2 linked regions of the Homo sapiens genome follow. The protein of the gene in region 1 interacts with the protein of each later gene in a biochemical or structural test. Each region holds a gene or a part of one and is shown on either strand. Other genes may lie near its edges. The genes, in order: ANP32A and TAF1A.

Region 1 (5,155 bases):
TTCCATCTTTGGACTTAGGTGGGTGTGGGAGGGTCATGAGCCCCACACTGAAGACGCTACAAGGGGCCTGTGCTGTGTGGGGGGCGGAGCCAGCTCACCACTAGTTCTGTTTCCGTTCCCCATTTCGATTGCACAGAGGAGGAGTATGATGAAGATGCTCAGGTAGTGGAAGACGAGGAGGACGAGGATGAGGAGGAGGAAGGTGAAGAGGAGGACGTGAGTGGAGAGGAGGAGGTAAGGAGGCTGGGCTGGGCAGGGCCACCGTCTGCCCCTTTGAGGCAGTCCCACTGACTGCCTCTGTGATCAGTCTTGGCAGCCCCGGAGCCCTGGTTAGGAAAGTCGCTCCCCGATGGGTAGTGAAGTGAGTCCATTTCAGAGCCTTTCACTGGGCTGTTTCTGGGGAGACAAGACTTGCAGTAAGCTCTGGGGAGGCTGGATTAGAAGAGGGGAAGAGGATTTTAGAGGCAGGGACTGAACCTGCTGGGGTAAGCCTGGCCGTTGTTTCTATGTGAAGAAGTACAGAATGCATGGCCCCATTTTCTGCTTTTTGCTTTCATATGCTAATTAAGATATTCATTGAGCACTTAAACTGTGCTAGGGAAAACCAAAGTCTGCCTTGAACTGATAGGTAGCAGGATAACACTGCTGGATCCCAAATCAGAGAGTGACACTATGGAAATAGAGCACCAGGAGTTGGCCATTTTCCTAAAGAGATTGGCTGGTTCCCAGTTTTTTAACAAGATCTGTGAGGGGGTGAGTCCCAGCTCTACCACTCGCAAGCTGTGTGTCCCCAGACAATTTACCTGACCTTTCTGAGCCTATTTCTTCATCTGTAAAATAGGGATCATGATAGCTTTCTCACAGGGTTGTTAAGAGGATAAAGTGAAGTGTAAGTAAAATGCTTAAGGACAGTGTCTGACAAGGGGTAAGTGTCTGACTGCTTATTGTAGGCGTTCACACCCTCCTCCAGGTTCCTGGCACTGTGTTGGGTTTTGTGTTTGTGTGTTCTGAGTCTCTCTGTAGCAGAGTCATTTTCTATGACTTGCTCAGAATTCTAAATCAACTCTTGCTAATTGCAAAAGTTAGAACTAGAGAGTTTTAAAGTGACAATAGCATGGACAAGGCGCCTGTGTCCCCTCCCAACTCCCCCCGCAGTTTCCTGTCTCCCTCAATGGAGGATGCAGACACATCCGCTTGCCACACGGACTCACTCAGATAGTGTCTTCCAGTTCCAGCCAGCCGGCCCAGGCTTGAGAGACACAGGCCAATGACAATAGAATCGCGGAGGCCAGGCGCGGTGGCTCACGCCTGTAATCCTAGCACTTTGGGAGGCCGAGGCGGGCGGATCACTTGAGGTCAGGAGATCGAGACCAGCCTAGGCAACATGGCGAGACTCCATCTCTACTAAAAATATAAAAATTAGCCAGGCATGTTGATGGATGCCTATAATTCCAGCTACACAGGAGGCTGGGGCACGCGAATCGCTTGAACCTGGGAGGCAGAGGTTGCAGTGAGCCGAGATGGCACCGCTGCATTCCAGCCTGGGCAATAGAGCGAGACTCAGTTAAAAAAAAAAAAAAAAGCTGGCCAGATGAGCTTGGTTTCTGTTTAGTTGTGCTGCTGGCTTTGCCTTCTCCCTAGGTCTAGACTCTTAGGCTCATCTCTAAAGAATATTGTATTTTAAAAATAAAGTCTTAGTAAAACAGGTTCCCCTAGAACAGGGCAGTAAGTTGTATTGGCTAATAGCTGTTACATCTTCCTCTTCCTGTCACAGGAGTGCTGCATGTGAGGTTTGGGGGGGTGGGGATGGGGGAGGGTTGTGGATTTTGTTTTTTGTTTTTTGTTTTTTAAATAATCTCACTGACCATCTGCATATTTCCAGCTTTCAGTAAAGGAGAGCTTATACATGCAAAAAAAAACCAGAACCTTAGCAAACAGACTGATGAGGGAACTCTTTGGTGACATTTTAAAAGAATGTTTCCCTTGACAAAAAAGAAGTCTGTCACCAAGTTCTTTTAAACTTCAGGAACCAGGTTTAACAAGCAGAGATTCAACTTGCATATACTTTCAGGAGCAGAGGAAAGCAAGGGCCCTGTGTTGAGAAAGAAAGTCATACACCTTGCTGAATCTCAAGCCGGTTGGGAATGATGTCCTCAGGGGGTCTTGAATTTATCTTCCCCAACCCTTCCAGGTGGTCCAAGTTTGCAAGCTAGGGAAGGGGCTGGGTCAGGTGACGTTGAACTTGCCCACAGAATCTGGATTTGCTTAAACTGGGGTCTTCTCTTGAAGCCAAAACTAGATTGAGGACAGATGCAAGAAAGGATGGCCTACTTTGCACGTCAGGGAGTCTGCTCGGGAACTTGTTCTCCTCAGAGAATGTGCAGACTGGAGAGCTGCCTGCCTTACAGGGACTTCAGATCAGAGTTCTTAACCTGGGTCCTGGAATCCATAACCCCCTGAAACTGCTTGCAAATATTATAAATGATACGGACATTTTCTGGAGAAGGAGTTCAAAGCTTTCTGCAGATTTCCCAATGAGTCCTTGATCTGAAATAAATTAAGAACCTCTGCTTTACATTCCTCCCGAGATGTCAAGTCTTGGTGGGGGCTCTGAGAGGCTGGGGGTGACCCCGGCCTTTTTGTGCTCTGTGTGGCTTCCTCAGCATGTCCCAAGGCAGGGCATTTCTAATGTTCTGGTGTCTGTCCTTTCTCCTAGGAGGATGAAGAAGGTTATAACGATGGAGAGGTAGATGACGAGGAAGATGAAGAAGAGCTTGGTGGTATGGCAGCCTTTTTACTCTCAGCTGGTAGCAGCCTGGCCCTTTCACTTTGGCCTTAGATTGCTTAGACTCAGAGGCCCCTGGCAGTGGGCAGGACACTCCTGTCAGAGGCCTCAGATTCCCCTTCCAGCTGTGCAGATGTCTTGCCTCGGTTTCCAAGGATGGCACAGCTTGCTAGTCATGGGTCCCCTGACTTCTCACTGGGTGGGTTGAGTTAAAGAGGTGGGATTAATAACTAATCTAAATGCCGCTTTCTTACTTTTCCAGAAGAAGAAAGGGGTCAGAAGCGAAAACGAGAACCTGAAGATGAGGGAGAAGATGATGACTAAGTGGAATAACCTATTTTGAAAAATTCCTATTGTGATTTGACTGTTTTTACCCATATCCCCTCTCCCCCCCCCCTCCAATCCTGCCCCCTGAAACTTATTTTTTTCTGATTGTAACGTTGCTGTGGGAACGAGAGGGGAAGAGTGTACTGGGGGTTGCGGGGGGAGGGATGGCGGGTGGGGGTGGAATAAAATACTATTTTTACTGCCACTCTTTATTTTTTTCCCCTACTTTTTCTTTGTGTCCGGTTTTTGTCCCTGTAAATGCGATAGCTAAGTACACACTAAGTGAGCATTTGTTCCTGACTCTCAAAGAGGATGGTTTGGAGTTCTCTTACGTTTCCTGGTATTTCCCAAGTCTCTTGGGTTGGTTGGAAGGCTGTGGCTGGTCTCAGTTTGGTTACTCAATGCCCAGGAGGGGCTGAGCACCAGCCATATCTTTTGCTTTGGTTCACATGATGATACCTGCTTTTCTCAGGCCTGCTAGAGGCATCCAACGCCCTGGTTTGTAAATAGCAACCTAAAGGCGTATTTTGGCACTGGTCTGGGGACATTCCCCATCTCTCATCCCTTTTCCCCCTTCACAGATGGTGGTGGGCTTCGCTCTACAAAGAGGACTCTGATGTTACTCTTGAGCTTATGAGCCAGAGAGCTGAAAACCGCAGGCTTGTTGTGTTAAGTTACAAGGAAAATGGATTTGGTAATTAAAATTAGAAGAAACACACCTTCAAACTTCAACTTCTTTAAAAGAAAAAAAAAACTGTCCTATCTTGTTCTGTAAAATATTAGAACGCTTTGTTTTACAAAAAATGATGAGAGAATTCTTCCACATGTACTTCTGTGCTTAGAACATTTTTACGGACCTAAGCGCTGGAGACGTTGCTGCATGTCGGCTGGGTTTTTTTTTTCATACACCCGAGCACGGAAAAACTAACGCAAAATTGTATTTTCTTACCTAGTGGAAATCTGAAATGACTGCAAATTCCTAGTGAATGTACAGGTTTGCTTTCGTGTCCCTCTTCTGGTTGCTTTAGAAGTGACGTGTAATTTCTGAACCCATGTTTCATCTGTATAAAAGAACATCTGCACCAGTTTTTCTCCTGCCCCTCAGAAGAGCCAAACTTTGAGTTTTATGTCTGTTTGTCATTGATAAATTTCAATAAATCTTTTTATACAATTTTTTTGGGGATGGCTTCTTTGAGTCCAACAGGCCATTGATCTTTTCAAGATGCATTCCAGATGAACTGCTAGGTGAGGGGGAAGCTTCATTTTTGTTACCTGATAGAATAGCTTTTCTTATGAGATATATATAATGTGATACTATGTTTGGATATTTTTGGTCTTAAAGCAAGACTCAGTGGTGTATCTTCATTAAAAGCTTCCTTTAAAAAAGTTACAGAGTTACTAAAAAAACAAGTACCCAAACAATCAAGTTGGGCCAACCTTGGAACCTTGTTTTGAATATCTTTCATTGTTTTGTTTGTCGTATTGTAAAAAGAATGTATGGTTGAAAACTCAGGAATGTTTATAAAACAAATTATTTCACAAACCCAGAGGTTTACATATGGTGTTTTATTTTGTTACTTTACTTAACAGTATTATAATCATTTCCCTGTTTCTTTAATTTTCAAAAGCATGTATCTTAAATGGCTACATAGTAGTCCATCAACTATATTCTGATTTACTTAATTCTAACCAAATGGTTAGATGTTTTCATTATGTCCAGCTTACCCCTGTAGTGGATATTGTTATATTACTACTTATTTATACTTTTTGTGGAGTTCTTAGTACAAACTCTTAGAAGTAGTAGAGTCATTGGACCAAAAGCTAAAAACATTTATGAGGCTCATGTACAAGGTTCCATGTTTTCCAGAAGAGTTCAGCCAGTTTACTGTGGTTGTTTATACACGTACACATATACTCATTCTTATGTATTCATTCTATACAGCCTTGAACCCACAACAAGCCCTAGTTCCTTACAATGTCTTATAGTTGTTGTGTGATTCCAGCAGTGTAAAGTGTTTCCAGAAGAGCCCGTGACCCACCTCA
Region 2 (7,294 bases), on another chromosome or scaffold:
TGTTAAATTATAGGAATTCTTTGTATATTTTGTGTTCAGTTTTTAATCATGGCATTTTAGAGGTGAAAGACAAAGGTCCTTTCAACCTAAAGAAATGATAGAGAAAAGTTCTTATCTCTGTTTTCTTTTAAAAGGCCAATTATCTTTATACTTTCGTGATCAAAATTGGCATTATCAAACCTTCAGATGTGGAAACTAAGTTTTATAAATTTTTCAACAGGCTTTGTTTTACTAAACAATCCTTTGCTGTTGTTGTTGTTTGAAACAGGGTCTCACTCTGTTGCCCAAGCTGGAGTGCAATGGCATGATCACGTGAGGCTCCCTGTAGCCTCCACCTCCCTGGCTCAGGTGATCCTGCCACCTCAGCCTCCCGAGTAGCTGGGACTACAGGCACACGCCACCATGGCTGGCTAATTTTTTGTATTTTTGGAGAAACAGGGTTTTGCTATGTTGCCCAGGCTGGACTAAACAATACCTTTAAAGTTGCTATTTTTATTTTACTCTCTTAAGATAGCTTTTGGCTCATTTATATTACAAAATATTAAGGATTGTGTTTAAAACAAAAGCAAGACTGTGCTTTCAGGTTATCAATCACTAATGGTGTTTTTGAAAAGATTTTTTAAAATGCTACAGAAAATAACTGTTGAATACTTATCTCATATTTATATTCAAGACAAGATGGATTTAGAGAAATTCTGTTTTTCCTTTTGAAAAATAGGGTATTTGGAATTAAGATCTCAATACATGGGTTTAATAGCAGATTGGACATAGCAAAAGAGAGGATTAATGAACTGCATAGAAAATATCAGGCTAAACCATGGAGAACAAAAAGGATGAAAGGTGCAGAAACGAGCATACAAGTGAATTGGTGAAAAGATCTGACATACCTGTCATTGGAGTCCTAGGTGGAGGACCTCTGAATAGAACAGGGCAAAAGCAAGCAAACTAATTTTTTAAAAACACTGGCATTTGAAGGGCTCATGACTAAGACTTTTTCAAAACAAATGGAGGATTTCTAGTGTTCTGGTGATGTGCTATTATTTGATCTGGGTGCTGGTTACCTGAGTGTTTAACTTTGTGAAAACTGACTGGTGTCATGATTTGTATGCACTTCTACTACATGTTATATTTCAATAGAAAAATCTAAGTGAATTGAGCCATATACAGAATTCTATAAAATCATGAGACAAATGTGACTTTCATAGGAACTGAATTTCAATAATATTCTCTGATATTGGTGTATTGATCTTGATTGATCTTTTTAAAAATGATTAAGAGAAATTAACAAAATTTACTTTTAATTTTGTTGGAAATTATTTCAATGTAAGGTCAAAGTACTTTAGTAAGCAGAATGAATTCATTTCTAGTATTAAATGTATTAAAATGAAAAATACAGCTTTACTTTAAATTCCATTTTTTGAATATTCATAAAAATAGTCCTTCCTATTTTTTAAAAGAAAAATCTTTAATTTTTTCATTGTGTGAAAGGTTGTTAAAATATTTACTCATATAACCTTAGTAAACTGTTCCTGAGCACAATCTGTGAAATTAACTCCCAGCCTTTTTAGCTTTTTTGCTTTATATAAATATTCTGTGATCTCTTCTGTTTAGTAAATAAGTATATTTTCTGTGTGATAATTGATTTTTTTCTTTTTTTCTTCAGTCCTGGCTTCTGAAAGAAATCGTTTTTAGTTGTTGAGCGTGGTAAACAGTATAGATATGTATAAGGAGCAAATAAAAAGTCCCTGCCTATTTTCCTCACTTCTCCTGACTATTTTGTTATCAGGGCCTTTTTTTTTTTTTTTTTTTTAAGACAGCTTTACAGAGAATGCTTTTCTATACTTAGATTGAAACTAGATAAAGAGCCAGGGTATTTTTAAAATACTTAATAAATTTAAAGGGAGCATATTAGACAGTAAGAACTTTATTTTGAAAGTAAGCTGAAATTTGAGAAATGCTTTTACAAGTATGTAAAGATTACAAGACTGTTCTTTCTTTCAGATTTTGTATCAGATTGTACCATCTCATAAATTGATGTTGGAATTCCATACATTACTTAGAAAATCAGGTAATAAATAAATGTTGTTTTATACCTTGTGTAGACAAGCTATAGACTAGGGACCAGCAAACTAGTTTAGCCCATCGGCTAAATCCACCCCTTTCCTGATTTTATAAATCAAGTTCTGTTGGAGTCCATCTGTTTCTGTATTGTCTGCGGCTGCTTTTGCACTATAGTGACAGAGCCGTGTAGTTGTGACAGAGACTGTATGCCTTGCAAAGCTTAAAATATTTATTATCTGGGCCTTTATAGAAAAAGTTTGCCTACTCCTGTTACACAATGTGAAGGCAGTAGTTTGCAAAAGAGAAATGGCTCGATTTTATATAATTCACTCCATTTTAATCCCTGCTACATTTCAGCACACCATAGAAGAGAGCATGCTCCTTCATAGAAGAAAATCAGCTGGCTAAGCCCAAGCTGGTCCTAGGACTGCCTAGGTTCCTCTCTGAATATGAAAGAACATGTATAAAATGCCCAAACAGGGCAGGTACTTTAAATAATGTCCTTAGTAGAGGAGTGTAACCCATATTGAGATCAAATTCACCACCATTACCTCATTAGCAGGGATTTTTATTGAGTTTTTCAGATTCATTGCAGGAGTAAGAGCATAATGAATTTTTAAAAACTGTTAACCAGAAGGCTTATGATTCAGTATTTTATCAACAACATATATGTAAAGTATATATACAGTTGATAAAATGTATACATGTAAATTTTAGCTTTGTACACTTTAATACCTTATGTAAACTTGAACTGTTAAAACCATTGCAGAAAAAGAAGAACACCGTAAACTGGGGTTGGAGGTATTATTTGGAGTCTTAGATTTTGCCGGATGCACTAAGAATATAACTGCTTGGAAATACTTGGCAAAATATCTGAAAAATATCTTAATGGGGTAAGAAACATACAGTGTTTATTACTAGGTCATCATAAATAATATTTCCCAATATTTTAGCTAATATCAATTTTTAAAGATCTTTGCTTATGTTTTATAATTTCTTGAATTGTGTCTTCAGCTGTTTTCTGAGTACATTTTCTTCTGAAGCAAAGAAATACAGAGTCATAAGGAGAACATACAAAAATTCTATCAATTTTTTTATGCCATCAAAATAAATCCTGTACTTAGCACTACTGCTTGCTAAGGAATACGTATGTGTTTTCCATTTGGAAATAAAGACTAGCAGGGATCACTCTTTGCTAAAGACTCTTTGTGATTTGTGCGTCATTAACTTGTAAGATCACATGGGAAGCAGCTTTCCTCCTACCTGTGTTTGATCATTTTCAGTGAGTATTTTTAGGACCTGACAAGATCATCATACACTAGTCATTTAACAAATACTCATTAAATCCATTTTGACCTGGGTATCTAAAAGTGTACCTCTGATCATAATATTGTTAGTGTCACATTTTGAGTAAAAGAAAATGAATTTCCTGTTATTTTTACTTAGTGTGTGAGAAGAAGGGATATTACAAAGTTGTTTCATATATTTATTATATCCAATTTAGTTGTTAGGCAATTCAGTGTCAGTTGGAAATTGTTTCAGGCTTCAGATCTGACTTGTCCCGATGGGACAGTGCTGTTTATAAAATGGTTTTGGTGTCATATGTTGACGCACTCACTGTAAAGCATTTTCTAAATCTGAAGCCCTGAATAAACTTCTACTAGATCATAAGGTCCTTGAAAGCAAAGAGGTTCATTTTTTCGAACCTCTATTTGTTCTACCATAGGGGGCACATGGGTGCCAATAAGCATTTGCTCAATTAAATTATAGAGATCTAATGTGCAACGTAGACTGTAGTTAATATTGTATTGCATATAGGAAATTTACTATGAGTAGAGTTCAGGTGCTCCCACCACTCAAAAAAGTTAACTATATGTATATGAAACATGTTGTATACCTTAAATATATACAATAAAAAAAATTATTCACAGACACACAGAATTGCCTGCACTTAACAGTTTAACATATGTCTTAATGTATTTGTATAATAATGGTATCTCCATTTGGATAGTAATTCATGGCAGCATATAATTTTAAGTAAGGTTTTACTTAAGTAATAGTAATAGATAATATTTATTGAACATTTACTATGTACCAGACACTATGCAAAGAGCTTTATATGAGACCTGCTGTACCCTACTACTAGAATAGTTTAATCTTAATAACATTCCTATGAGATCAGTACCACTAATGTCCTCAAGGGCACTGAAGCTCAGAGAGGTTCAGCAACTTGCCCAGGATCACATACATAGTAGATGGAAGAGCTGATATTTGAATCCAGGATTCTGGCTTCGAGTCTGTTCTGTAACCACTGTGCTAAACTGTCTGTTTAGTGAAATGGAAAATGGGATATGGAGATGGAAGAGAACAAAAAAGGATTTGCTTTCCTGCTGTTGCCAATCATGTGTTATGCCTTGGCCATATTGAGAATTTAGCTTGGAAGCATCTTCCTTGTCATCTTTCTGTAGACTCTAGTTAAGTCTAAATTCTGATAATATAGATTTGTTTCCATCATTGACCCTCTCTTTTGACATTTTTCTTTTCCAGAAACCACCTTGCGTGGGTTCAAGAAGAGTGGAACTCCAGGAAAAACTGGTGGCCAGGCTTTCATTTCAGCTACTTTTGGGCAAAAAGTGATTGGAAGGAAGATACAGCTTTGGCCTGTGAGAAAGCTTTTGTGGCTGGTTTACTGTTAGGAAAAGGTACAGTTTTTATTTTCGTTTTATCTAGACACAGCTTTGGCTGATTTTGAAATTATGAAGTATGGCCTTCATTTAGAGCTTACCTAACATGGTACCTAAAAATATTAGGTGCTTAAGACATAACTGCTCAATGGAAGAGTGAATCCTGAGTTGGGACTATGTGCTTAGATTAGAAGCAGTGATTTCATATTGATTGTGAACGGTTTTCATCTCCTGACTTGAGTGTTGTTAGGGGGCCATTAAGATACATGATACAGAGTTTTCACAATAATTGACCATTTGGCCTTGTTTTATAGAAAGTTTACTGAGATTTTCAAGTGTCAAAATATTCTTTATTGACCTCACTGTTCTTTAATAGCTTCATATTATACTAATATTTACTTACCTGTTTCTGTAAGCGTGAAACATTTCCTCCACTTAAGAGAAAGAATACCTCCTACTAGCATATGAAAAAAATTCTCTTCAAAGAAAAGGGATATTGATTTTTTCTTCAAAGAAAAGAAATATTTTGGGTGGTAAAATTCTTACCTGCTTTCTGCCACTGAAATTATTAAAAGGTGGCCAGTACCGAAATGAAACTACCACAGAGTATGTCCAGAAATGAAGAAAATAAATCTTACAGTGACCACTAGTAAGCAGTCCATTGCTAGGGAGCTTAAGGTGTCCTGAAGAGATTCTCCAATTCACTTTTGAATATGGTTTCTATTATTTTGGAATTAGTAGTCTCAGTGAATGTAATACAATGTTGATTAAGAAGAAAATAAAAATCAATACACTGATGACAAGGAACAGAAAGGTGATTTGGATTGTCATTTTTCTACTTTATGAGTAGAGCGGCATCTAGCACAATTATCAAGAGGTCTCTTTGAGCAGAGTAGGAAGATCTGGGTTAATTTTCCAATTCACTCCCTTGCTATCTAACTTAGGTCAAGCAATTAACTTTTAGGAGCCTTTTCTATGAAGTGGGCATTGTAACACCCATCTTATTGTTGTAAGTATCATGTGAACATCGCATCAAAGTGCTTTGTAATTTCTAAAGTGCTCTACAAATATCAGGCATCAGTTACTCCCGCAAGAGCCACATCTCCTCTCAGGCTGTTAGTGTGGGGTTGAGTCAGTCTATTCATTAGTTAAGCTGGGTTTTCTTCTTGCTCTGGTTACCAACCTTACTTTATAGGATTCAAATTCTGGGTGTGGTCTGCCTTTGCTTTGTGCTTTGAGTGGGGTATGGTGGCTCTCTTTCTTTCCATGCTGCACTAAAAGCAAGCCAGGCCCATTTCTCCTTGGAGGGGTCTTTCCTTGTTGGGATTGAAGCTACTTGGTTGCCCTGTGACTTCAGCTCTCATGGACTTGAGAGTTAGTTTATTAAGCTTTTTCTCTATGTTAGGGTGGGAACGAAATTCTTTCCAGCTTTCTATATAGGTACAGGCAAAAATCTGTGTGCAAAGTATTTTGTTTTTTACTAAGGTAGTATGATATGTTTAGAAATACAAATTATTTTAGTAACACTACAGACACCACTGCTTCCCAGCTAGTAAAACGTTACTAGCTGGGTGCGGTGGCATGCAGTGTGCCTGTAATCCTAGCTACTTGGGAGGCTGAGGTGGGAGGATTACTTGAGCCCAGGAGTTTGAAACCACTTTGTGTCCCATAGTGAGACCCCATCTCAGGAAAAACAACAAAACAAAGATGTTAGCAATTCTGGCATACTAGTTTCAGGAATAATAAAAATGGTTACTATAGGTACAGTATATGTCCTTGCATTTTCTCAGAGAAGATGGATGCATACAAGCTGAAACTGTAATGAAATTAATTTTTCATATGTGAATTATGGTCTTATTCATTTACCAACTCTAAAAAACCTCAATATCCAGTTTACATTTTTCTTACAGAAATATGATTCATTTGTCTGAAATATTTGACAAATGCTTGACAGTCCTTTGTGTGTTGTAAGACTTATGAACAGCAGGTGGAACTTCTAATGAGCATGAGGCACCTCTGTGAGAGCTACATGGTCTCCACCTTGCTGCTCTCTACATGGCTAGAATGAATAGATAATGTTTGACCGTTTCTAACCTATGATTTGTTTATTCTAATCCTTCACATCCTAAGATTTTCTACAGAGAACTTTCTTACTGTTATGAACGTAACTTTGGCTGATTTACAAGCTAACATTGAGAAGGAAGCTATACGAATGTGCTTTTGGAGAAGGCTCATTTAATATGTGACTGTATATAATATGCCTGTCACCATCACTAGGGTGTAGGAGGAAGAGTAGAAAACAAGCTAAAGTCTATGCTTTAATTATGGTGGATTAGAAACATCTTTATATATAGGAAGAAATATGTTTCGTTGGGCACAGCTGAGAATATACTTATGCCATATTGGTAATACAAATAAATTTTGTATATAGGAACAAATGTATTTCATTGGGCACAGCTGAGAATATGCTTAGGACATATTGATAATACAAATAAATCTATTTTCATAATCATTAGTGTGCTAAACTTAAAGCAGAATTTTTAAAATGT

What was found.
Region 2: the proteins of ANP32A (region 1) and TAF1A form a complex in vitro, tested with the Homo sapiens proteins (one study listed by BioGRID).

Annotation. Positions count from the first base shown.
Region 1 is NC_000015.10:68,778,035-68,783,189, reverse strand, and holds the end of ANP32A (acidic leucine-rich nuclear phosphoprotein 32 family member A), read left to right. Parts: intron 1-136; coding exon 137-234; intron 235-2,716; coding exon 2,717-2,780; intron 2,781-3,047; coding exon 3,048-3,109; 3' UTR 3,110-4,655; downstream 4,656-5,155. UniProt on the Homo sapiens protein: Multifunctional protein that is involved in the regulation of many processes including tumor suppression, apoptosis, cell cycle progression or transcription. Promotes apoptosis by favouring the activation of caspase-9/CASP9 and allowing apoptosome formation.
Region 2 is NC_000001.11:222,558,833-222,566,126, reverse strand, and holds part of TAF1A (TATA box-binding protein-associated factor RNA polymerase I subunit A), read left to right. Parts: intron 1-2,001; coding exon 2,002-2,068; intron 2,069-2,830; coding exon 2,831-2,954; intron 2,955-4,608; coding exon 4,609-4,763; intron 4,764-7,294. UniProt on the Homo sapiens protein: Component of the transcription factor SL1/TIF-IB complex, which is involved in the assembly of the PIC (pre-initiation complex) during RNA polymerase I-dependent transcription.